2 separate regions of the Homo sapiens genome follow, and region 1 is linked to region 2. The links come from fine-mapping of genetic effects on gene expression. A gene starts in region 2. The other region holds a variant in brackets. All regions are shown on one strand. Distances are from middle to middle.

Region 1 (5,366 bases), 33 kb before region 2:
CAAGTATGAAATCATTATATATTTCTCTTTAGATCTACTTGCTTTTCTGCTTTTAAAGATTCCATGGGAGCAGTGAGGCTTACTTTGAGAATAAGGGTACTTTGTTGGATAAAAGTGAAGCAAACTTTTATTTTGGCAGTAACGGAAATAAAGTAAATATCACTATAGCATAGACCTGTGTTTCCAACTCATTTTGCTCAACTTTTCCAGACTTCCTGAGTAAACACAGATGGGTTTCCACTTATTTTTCAGTTTTATGTAGAAAGTTCTTTAGACTATAAATTCCACATGCTACTTGGAGTTTTCAGTGTTTGCTTGATTGCATGCCATTGGAAGGTCAAAAACCTAGATTTAGACATTATAAAGATTTAGAAGGTGATGATGTGTAGTAACGTGTTTTCATTTGGCTTTATTTTGGTCTTTCTTGATGGTAATTCTAAATGTTTTAATTCAGGTCTTGACTAAATTTCCTGGTAATTTGGTGGCAGACAGAATTTTGAAAGCCTTCTATTTTTAAATAGCAGAATGGTGGGGAGGGTCTTTGAAAAGGTGACCTTAATTTAATATTCCTGATGTGGTGGTAGCTGCCTATCACAAGTAATTCCCTGAATTGTTAATAAAATTAGAGAGGCTGGAGGGTGGGGTGGAAAGAGACCTGAACACCTGGGTCTGTCCCCAGTCTGACCATTAACAAGCTCTGTGGCTTCAAGCAATGCATTTATACATTTTGAAGCTTAGTTTTCTTATTTGTAAGAAAAGACTTATTTCTAGCCCTAGAATCCCATGATTCTGATTTCACCTCTTATCAACTAATAATTGTAGAAATCAGAAGATCAGGGTGTGTGTGCTCGGTTAATAATCCAAGAGCATAGGCACATGTGCAGCAGAGATTTTAACCGAGGTTTGCAATAGTACATCGTTCAAAGATTAAATGCCAGGGAGCCGCTGCAGAATAGGAAGAAGACTGAGATACTCAAGTTAGGGATTTTGTCTTGCATCATGTTTTATTAATAAAAGATTTTAATGTTCTCTTAATGTTAAGCTTTTAAAAAATAAAAACATTTTTTCTTTGTAAAGTAAAAGGTAATTAAATCAGCTTTCCATTTGATTTATTAATATCGTCTAGTACTACTATTATGGCAGGGTGTGTATAGAGTTCTTTTTTGCTCTCATAGAAAATTGTGGAAGGAATGAAGAGGATTTGCAGCTTTTCATAATGTCATCTAATTGAATTTTTACGTGGAGTAAAGTTTGATTACATTTTTATTGCTATCATTGTTTAATAATATTTTGACCCTGATAGAGCAGCTTCATTTGCACTATTTTTAAATAAGAAAGTTATGTTTTATTTTCTAAATTTACTGCTAAACATAAAAAAACACAATTGATTATTGAATTTCACCACTAATTATTTCAGTGATCAATACTGTACAAAAAAAAGACCTAGTTGTTTAGATTATCTGTCATTAGTAAATGTCTGTCCAGAAGATAGAGTTCCATGTTGATCTAAAAAAGAACCTTTACTTTTCAATTGAAACTTAACCCTCTGGTGTCATGCTTCTCCCTTCCCCCTCCCCTTAAAAGAAAAAAATTATTCTTACCTTTTGTTTTGTCTCGTTTGCTTGCTTTTATAAGAGCCTTATGAATAACTGTATGCTTTCTAGCTAATAATAATACATACCAAGAGATGGTAAGAGTTTTTCTTTTATTTTGCCACCTGTGTCTCTCTCCGGGAAAGAGTGGTTTCTCAGCTCTCTTACTACCAGGGATGAAGCCGTGTCTGCGGGATGTAATTTGCAGAGACCTTACATATGTGGTCACTCACATGTTATCTGAATACAGCTACAGACAATTTTTGTGGGTCATTTATTTTTTAATTTTGTTGCATTTGCAGGTCTGATTTACATGTTAAAATATACATTTATTTAACATGATAAAATTACATTTTAGCTCTGCTCTCTTATTTTATTTTCCTGAGGGAAAATAGAATGTGGTATTGTATGTGATATTTGGTGTTTATGAAACAGATTAACAGCATATTTTAGTGAAACCAAAGCAAGTGTGTTTTATCTGTTTCCAGTGTATTTTAATATTTACAGTCATTTTTTGCTTGTTTCCTAGCTCATTTTCAAAACAACCACAGTAAATAAAAATTAAAGCATATATTGATGTAGCTTAATTTAAAAAAAAA[AAAG/A]GAGATTTTAAAATGCCTTGCTTAGTGGATCTTTATATTTAGTCAGCTTAAAATCTCAGTGTTTTCTCAACTGACCATGCCTTGTCTGTCTGTCTGTCCCATGCTGCTTTCTTTGTGCTTTCCCCAACTGGATGGGACTGATGGGGACAACATGTCTCTTCAGGAGCTGGACGAGGTATTGTGTTTTGAATATTTTTATATGTTGGGTAATTTGAGTTTATAAAATACCTACTTTTCCTGAAGTCTTTGCTCATATATAAAATGCTAACAGCTTATACATATTTAGCATTTGTTTTGATTACTTTATAATTTTTTTAACAGTTTAATATGTAGAATTTAATCTATTTTCACACCATGTGAACTGATGATTTAAAAAAGGCTTTGGGAAGATCGTTTACTAGTCTTGGGAAAGTGTCTTAACTTTGGAAGCAGTAAAGGTTGAACACTTTCTTCAAGGAAGCCAGAATGTTTTGAGAATTAATGTCTGTAGCTTCCTGATTTCTGAGAAGTGAGTCGTGCACTTCCTCAGGTAGACAGTATAGAAGGCCAGCATGTCTGTGAAGGCCCTAAATGAGAAGGACTGTAGCCACGGCAACTGTGGGAGGGTCTTCCTTGTCACTCCTGTCTGGAATGAGATGACACCCAGTGGATGCACCTGGAGCTATTGTCACCTGGGCCCAGTTCTGCATCTCCTAGCTGGGGGTGCCTTTGGCCTTTTTATTAGCTACTAGCATCTTGCCCAGAAGGTGGAGAGAATATATATTCAAAGCACTTTATTTTAGTAGCCGGAGTAAAAGGGTTGAGAAAAAATGAGATTAAAACTGTTGTTAATGTTTGTGTCTATTGTCTGTTTCAGCATTGAAGGGGTAAGAATATTTTTCCTGAGTATAGACCTTTTAAGTAGAGTGATGGAGAGGTGAGGGTTGTTCTTGTTTGTTTTCATTTAGAAGTATGAATAGTAAAGTAGGATTAGGAGGATCACTGTCCTTAAAACCAGTGGGGTCCTAACTAGTAGATTCAGATCTACCTATATATTCTAAAAACCTTAACTAGTTGATAATGACAACAGACTGAGCACAGCCTAAATAGCCTTCATTGGGAACTGGTTAAATATATTGTGTAGCATCTCTGACCCTCTGTAACAGGTAAATAGTGAGGCCCATCCATGAGAGCTGCAGTGGAATAAGCCCCAGACACATGGCGGAGTGGAAAGACCCAGATGCAGAGCAGCATGGATAATATGATTCCTGCTCCTTTTTTTTTTTTTTTTTTTTTTTTTTCAGGAAAAATAACTCATATTTATGCTTGTGTGTGCTTAAAAAATTCCTGAAAAGATACACAAGAAACTGTTAACAGTGGATACACCCCAAGAAACATCTGGGATAGAAAACTTCCTTTCTATTGCAAACCCTTTTCTTAGGGTGGATATATATTTTTAAACCATGTGCATGTATACTTTGCCACTAAAAACAATTAGTTAAAAAAAAAAAACACCACTCAACGGGTAGCTGACTGAGCCAGGTGTCATGGTCATGCCTGTGTGGGGGTTTCCTTTCCCATTCAGGAACCTCACTGCCAGCTCCCCGCCTGGGCACGGGGCCCTGGAGAGGGCTTGGGGGCTTGGAGAGCAGGCGTTCTGAGTTAAAATAGATGTTGCTACTGGCTGAACAGTTTGAAGATATGGAGCTTATGACCTCAAAAGGAAGTGTATAGGATGCGAGGGAGGGTAACAAATTATGGAACCACTTAGGTTGAAGAACCATTTGAATAATGTTCCAAGGAGGGGCACATAAGTGGTCATAATTACTTCGGGGTCTGCTGTCTGAACCGATTTCCAGTCTTTCCTACTTCCTTTTTCAGGCAGCAAGTTCCAGAAACTGGCTACTCACTGCATGAACTTGGCAGGCCCTTTTGCTTTTCTTATGTTTCACCTCTAAGGGCTTAAAAGGGAGTCTTCACGCTCTGTGATCAGAGGCCCTGCGTAGAGAGCACTATCTCCTCCACGCTCACCCCAGTGCTATTAGAAATGCAGGTTGCTGCCTCATCGTGGGTGCCCACGGCCACCTCATTTCCTTGTGCGTTTCACTTGCCTCTTTTGCTCTTTTGTGCAGTGCCGTTATCTTTTTCATGAAGTGTGGCTTCCACAATTGTCTGTGACGTACATTTTATTTACCTCGTGCATTCATTCCACTCGTTTCTTGTCGGATCACTCAGCTGGTTGTGATTGTGCGTTCAGGACTCTGAAGTGCCAGGTACTGGCCTAGGAGCAGGGGGTGTGGTTGGGGACAGTGTCCAGAGGCTTCTTTGAAGCTGACGCAGGGCCTCACATTGGCATCTCTGGAAATAGTGAACACCCAGCTCCAGAGTGGATTAGATGTTAGCCACCCCTTTATAGGGGAGGCCTGAGCAAATGTCCCTGAGTGAATATCACTTGCATCTCCCAGAGTAAAGGCATCTGACGGCCTCACTTCAGAGGCTTCCTGCAGTCTGTCCATGTTTGATTGTCATTCTCCTCCTCTAGCCTGAGTACCCTGGAGATGTCACTTTTCCTTCTCAGAAAACACTAAGTAAGGTGTTCCCTGAGGAGGACCCGAGCCCACCATTGGTTCTCTTACCCAGGGAAGTGTCTGGCCCTCTCCTTTGTTCTCTGTCTTTAATCTACTTCCTGTCTTATGACAAAGAAATCTCTGGGAGTTTTTAAACTCAAGAATTATTTTAAAAGTCACAAGATAACAAATGTCAAGCCCCCAAACCACACTGCCTGGAGGACTGCACATCTGGGAGTGCCTGGGCCGGGCCCCAGTGTCCATGTTGGTGAAATAGGGAGCGGCGCTCCTCTGAAGGATTGTTCTTGGGACTGGCATGGGCCAGGTCAGTAGCAGTGCTCAGTACAGTGCTCACAGAAGGCAGGGAGGGACGGATTGCTCCCCTCCTTTTTCTTCCCCTCAGAGTATGTATGTTAGTTGAGAAAAAAGGAAAATCAGTGAAACTTAACAACAGTATCAGGGTGATGTGATTCTCAAGTGTTTTTATCTCTATATTTTTTGTATCATTTATTTTTATTTTTTTGAGACAGAGTCTCACTCTGTTGCCCAGGCTAGAGTGCAGTGGCGCGATCTCGGCTCACTGCAACCTCTGCCTCCCCAGTTCAAGCGATTCTCCTGCCTCAGCC
Region 2 (5,366 bases):
CTGGAATGTATTTGTATCTGTCACAAGCTGAATCTTGAGGAAATTGGCAGGCATTTGAAGTGGAATAATTCCTTAGCGTTCTGTTTAGTTTGGATTTCTTCAATTCGGGGGTGGCTTAAAACCAGAATCACCAATATTTGCTTTTAACAAGCATCTAACGTTTTCTCTTGCTTTGTGTACACTAAGTGCTCAACAAATGTTGGTTGAATTGAATCATTTTGTTCATCCTTTCTGGGGACTGTCAGGGTTATTCAGTCTATTCTTAAATATGAAAGAATTCTAAAAGAAAAACATCTCCAAAATGACCTCTCCACCAACAGTTTATCTCATTTCCAACTCCTTGTACACAAACCTGCTAGATCTGGCTTTCTGAAATGCTTCTTGGATCCCTCTTCAGTTTGCAAAATTCTATAGAGTGAGCCAGGCTCCCCAGTCGATCTCCTCACCCACTCCTATTTTCCAGGAACCTTCTGTTCTAACCACACAGGTTTCAGAGCCTGCTGGACATATTCTGCGTCTGTGTTTCCTCCCAGGACTTCTCCCACGTGGAAGGCCTTCTTTCTCAATCTCTTCGCCTGTGGAAGTCCTATTACATCTGTCAGGGCATGGCCTTAGTCTCTCACCCTCTAGGAAGATCCTCCAGCTGTCTCAGTCCTCTGGAGTGCCGTGTGCCTGTCTGCAACGTATTTGCAAACAGAAAAAAGAGTGAGAGATCTTCATACACACTGTTAGTACCCTTTACCAATGTGTGAAAACATTCAGCTGCTGTAAAATCTTTTGAAGAAAATAAGATCCAATTAGCGTTGACTTTTATGTCGGGAAAGCTGAGGGTTTCAAAGGAATGCCTTTCAGTCATTCAACAGCTTTTTTTTTTTTTTTTTTTTTTTTTTTTTTTTTTTTTGAGTGCCTGCTCTGTGCCAGGAACTGGAGGAAAAAAAAACAACAAAAAGTCAAAAAGACCTGCCTTCAGGATGCTGAAGCTCTAGTCTGTGGTGTTTCCAAGGGGCCAGGGACCATGGCTCAGAGCTGAGCAGACAGACCTGGAGCCTGTGGACAGGGAAGGTGAAAGCCTGGCTTGTGGCTCCCGGGGCTACAAGTTAGGGAGCTAGGGGGCCAGCTGGGAGGTCAGTGGTGGAAAACCTCTCACACCACGCCAGGGAGTTGACAGTGCTTTTTTTTCTTTTTTTCTTTTCTTTTTTTTTTTTTTTTTTTTTCATTTTTAGGCTGGTTATGAAGAAGAAACTCAAAATAACAGGAGTGGCTTATGGAACTACATGGAGGTAACAGAGGAGGGTACCAACCAAAGGCCCTTGAGCAATCAGGATGTTGGGTAACAGATTTTTGCTTTTAAATGACTCCTGGGTGGAGCTTCCCCAATGCATCGTCATTCCCTGACCCTTGCATCTGACCCTGTGGGTGGGACCCTCCGCCTCCACCATCCACTCAAGGCTCACCCCTGGCTCCTCCACCACCCGGCTCCTGCCCCACACCCCCGATGGCCTTTCCTCCCCTGTAAGGCGACTGAGGTGACTCAGGTCACCCTGCTCCTTCCTCGTCTCATCTCGTCCCTCCTTTCCTGCTTAGACTGTGCCAGATGACCCTTCTTGCAAAGGGGTGGGCGGGAAGGCCCCCCATGCAGCCAGGCAGTGCCTGGATTTGTAACTGGCCATCCCAGCAGCAGTGCCCTGGATGGAAAGCCACGTCCCTGTCACCCTCTCACATCCAGGGCAGTGCCTGGCAGAGCGGGGTCTGATAAACGCCAGGGAACCTCCGATTAAGTGAGGAGGAAGTGACCGTCCACGCTGTACCCACCATGCCAGGCAGTGGGACAAAAGGACCTGACTCAGGTCCAAGAGTCACTGGGCCCCTCCGGCCTAACTGATGGGTGGCCAGGGTGCGGGGTCCCTGGGGATCAAAAGCAGCTGCTAAGGGACCTCGGGGGACCTGCTTGGGGCCAGCCTGAGGCCTGACCGGGCGGAACTGCGTCGGGTGGGCTTGGGCCTACGTCGGCCCAGGCCCCACTGGAGGCCAGGCCCGTCCGGGAGGCGCTGCCTGGCGGGCCACGTCGCCCCGCGTGTTGGGCAGGGCCGCTAGGCCCAGGGGCGGCGCCGCTGGAGGCCGGGCGCGCGGGCCCTACTCGGCAGGGCCTGCTCGGGGCCGGCTTCGGGCCTGCCCGGCCGGGCCTGCCCGCACCCTTCCGCCCGGCCTGGCCGGCGCCCCCTCGCGCCCCGGGCGGGCCCTGCACGTCTCGCGAGCAGCCCGGAGCGGCGGGGGAGGCGGGGCCCGCGGGCTGCCGGGCAGGGCCGGGGCGGTGCCGAGGCCGGGCCGGAGCGGGGCGAAGGGGGCCGAGCGGCGGGCCGGGCCGGGCCGGGCAGGGCCGGGGCGTGGGCCGGCAGGAAGATGGCGAACGTGGGGCTGCAGTTCCAGGCGAGCGCGGGGGACTCGGACCCACAGAGCCGGCCCCTGCTGCTGCTCGGGCAGCTGCACCACCTGCACCGCGTGCCCTGGAGCCACGTCCGCGGGAAGCTGCAGCCCCGGGTCACCGAGGAGGTGAGCGGGCCGCCGGCCGCCATGCGACCCGCGCCGCGGAAGCCCAGGCCCGGGCGGCCCGCGGAGGCCCCGCCTCGCCCGCCGCACCCCCGCCGCCGCCGGGCCGGGCCCAACGAGGCCGGGCCGCCTCCCTGAAGGGCTCAGCCGCCAGGCCAGTCCTCGCCCGCGGAGGCCCAGCCCCAGGCCCCGTCGCCGGTGCGGCGCGGTGGTCCTCCTGTCAGCCCAGCCCTGCGCCCCGCGAGGCCGCGACACCTGCGGACGGCGGGGGGGGAGACGTGGCCGCTCCCAGGGCCGCGCGTCGGCCCCGCCTGGCGACAGGCCCTGGCTTCCAGAAGTTCCCATGGCAGTGTCCCCAGCTGCCTTTCCTTGGGGACACCTGGCCCCTGCCCCCTCTCTGGTGGAAGCCGCCTAAGCCCTATCCGAGTGTTGGAAGCAAAGCAGCCCCCAGCCTGGCCCTTCCAGGCTTGGTGGCTTCATCCCACCAGGGGGATGCGAGCCAGCCTAGAGACAGTTAGCTCTGCAGAGAGGCGACACATCTCCCTAAGGATGGGAAAACGGTGGCCGGGAGCTGCGCAGTGCCCTTCCAGGACTGCAGGAGTGGTTGTGGCCGTGGCTGCAGGGCAGGGCCTCCTGGCACGTGGCCGCTGTTTGAAGCCTCTGTGTCTTGTCTCTCCCTTCTGATCTAGCTCTGGCAGGCTGCCCTGAGCACGCTCAACCCCAACCCCACGGACAGCTGTCCCCTCTACCTGAACTACGCCACCGTGGCTGCCCTGCCCTGCAGGGTGAGCCGGCACAACAGCCCCTCGGCCGCCCACTTCATCACGCGGCTGGTGCGGACCTGCCTGCCGCCCGGAGCGCATCGCTGCATTGTGGTGAGTGCTTCGAGAGGAGGCAGCCACGGTGCTCCTAGTCGGGCAGCGGTGAGCTCGGGCCTGGGGAGCTCACAGCCCTGCTCAGACTGCAGCGCACGCCCAGAGGGCTGTGGACGTTATCATCCCTGCTCTGTAGACAGGGAAACAGGTCCAGAGAGACGCGGGGATTTGCCCCAGATCAGTTTTGGTGGCAAATCAGAGACTCAAACCTAGATTTCCTGAGGCCCACTTTGTGTCTGTCCCTCTGTCCCTCATTTTCATGGCTGGTCAGGCTGTTGACATCTGGTGGCCAATGTGTTATTTCTCTTGGAGCATGACCAATGGTGGTCCCATGGTTCCGGGGATGACCTGAGGGATGGGGTGGCGGCTGCTGTGGGACATCTCTGTCTAGATGTCACCTGCCAGGGAGCTGATGTTCCGGAGGCGTTCAAAGAGCAGCTCCCTGCACTCCCTGGTGGCGGCCCTTGCACCCCTCACGCCGTCTCCCTATGTGCCACAGATGGTCTGCGAGCAGCCGGAGGTCTTTGCTTCCGCCTGTGCCCTGGCCCGGGCCTTCCCGCTGTTCACCCACCGCTCAGGTGCCTCTCGGCGCTTGGAGAAGAAGACGGTCACCGTGGAGTTTTTCCTGGTGGGACAAGACAACGGGCCGGTGGAGGTGTCCACATTGCAGGTGGGTGTCTGGAAGGGCAGACACTGCCCCTGGGCCCGGGCAAGATCGGGCAGGTGGGAGGGAGGTCGGGAGAGGGAAAAGCTTGTTGCGGGGGCAGGAGGGGGTTCCTGCCCTTCCCAGGAGCTTTGGTTCCTGGGAAGCGGCAGAGGCTTTTCCAAACCCAGGCCCCCTGCCTCTGCCTCAGCGTGGTCTGTGACTTCAGGATTCTGTTGTATACAGGCAGTGTTTGTTGAGCACGTAATCAGTGCCAGGAACGTCCATGCTGTTTTCCAAATAACCCTGCCCGTTTATGTGAGCTCCGTGTGCACGTGTGTGATGTATGCACGTGTGTGTGTATGTGCGTGCACATGTGTGTTGCTGTGCGTGTATGAGTGTATGTGCATGTGTTGTATGTGTGGGGGGTGTGTGTGTGCATGTGTGATGTGTGTGTGTGTGTGGTATGTGTTGCTGTGTATGTTTGCTGGTGTGTGCATGAGTGGTGTGTGTGGTGTACGTGTGGTATGTGTTGCTGTGTGTGTGTGTTTGCTGGTGTGTGCATGAGTGGTGTGTGTGTGTGGTGTGCATGTGTGGTGTGTGCATGTGTGGTGTGTGTTGTTGTGTGTGAGTACTGGTGTGTGCATGAGCAGCATGTGTTGCTGTGTGTATGAGTGCTGGTGTGTGCATGAGTGGTGTGTGTGTGTGTTGTGTGTGTTGCTGTGTGTGTATGAGTGCTAGTGTGTGCATGAGTGGTGTGTGTGTGGTGTGTGTGCATGTGTGTTGCTGCACCCTTTACAGGGAGCACTTCTACATGTGTTATTTCACTCAATGCTGAGAATGATCCTTTTGAGGCTGCAAGGCCGGAAGTGATTTCCCAGCTCCAGATCCTTGGATGGGCCTGACATCAGGCTCCTGTCCCCACGGCAGCGGTCCCAGCCTCTGCGCCTGCCACCTCCAGTCCCCGAGCCCACAGCGCCACCCAGGTTGTCTTTTCTCATGTGTCAGCGCTCATTCTTCACTTCTGGCTCTGGAAGGCTGTCGCCTTCACCCAGGCAAGCTCTCCCACATCAGCACTTGGGCCACACCTCATTTCTTTCACTGTGTGCTCTCTGAGGCCTGTAACCACTGCCCCTCAACCCAAATTCTTCCATCTTCACCAGCATGAGATAGCTCCCCTTTTTTCCCTTCGTCTCTGAGCTTTTAAAAAAGTCTAACTGGTTTGCCTTGCTTAATCCTCTTTTCCCTCTTAACCCATGGAGACAGAGTTTTTGCCCCCATCCTGACATTGTTTTCTAAGG

What was found. PIP is the estimated chance that this variant, and not a neighbour inherited with it, causes the effect. A credible set is the group of variants that fine-mapping cannot tell apart.
Region 1: its variant is the best candidate, but not a certain one, in a credible set for the expression of NPEPL1 in whole blood (TOPMed, PIP 0.65).

What each region holds. Positions count from the first base shown.
Region 1 is chr20:58,657,266-58,662,631 of GRCh38, forward strand. It overlaps STX16 (syntaxin 16), which reads left to right. Exons shown (of 9, transcript NM_001001433.3): 2 at 2,358-2,369. STX16-NPEPL1 (STX16-NPEPL1 readthrough (NMD candidate)) reads left to right here. Exons shown (of 23, transcript NR_037945.1): 2 at 2,358-2,369. Among named protein-coding and RNA genes, the nearest start is that of STX16, 8.7 kb to the left of the region's middle. RefSeq lists an enhancer at 4,002-4,501. The variant AAAG/A (reference allele first, on the strand shown) is at 2,192.
Region 2 is chr20:58,690,501-58,695,866 of GRCh38, forward strand. NPEPL1 (aminopeptidase like 1) reads left to right here and starts at 2,300. Exons shown (of 12, transcript NM_024663.4): 1 at 2,300-2,550; 2 at 3,237-3,422; 3 at 3,922-4,092. The coding sequence starts at 2,401. It overlaps STX16-NPEPL1 (STX16-NPEPL1 readthrough (NMD candidate)), which reads left to right. Exons shown (of 23, transcript NR_037945.1): 9 at 534-727; 10 at 905-1,062; 11 at 1,224-1,280; 12 at 3,237-3,422; 13 at 3,922-4,092. RefSeq lists enhancers at 1,733-2,438, 3,879-4,486 and silencers at 1,936-2,425, 2,436-2,595, 2,626-2,705, 2,726-2,815.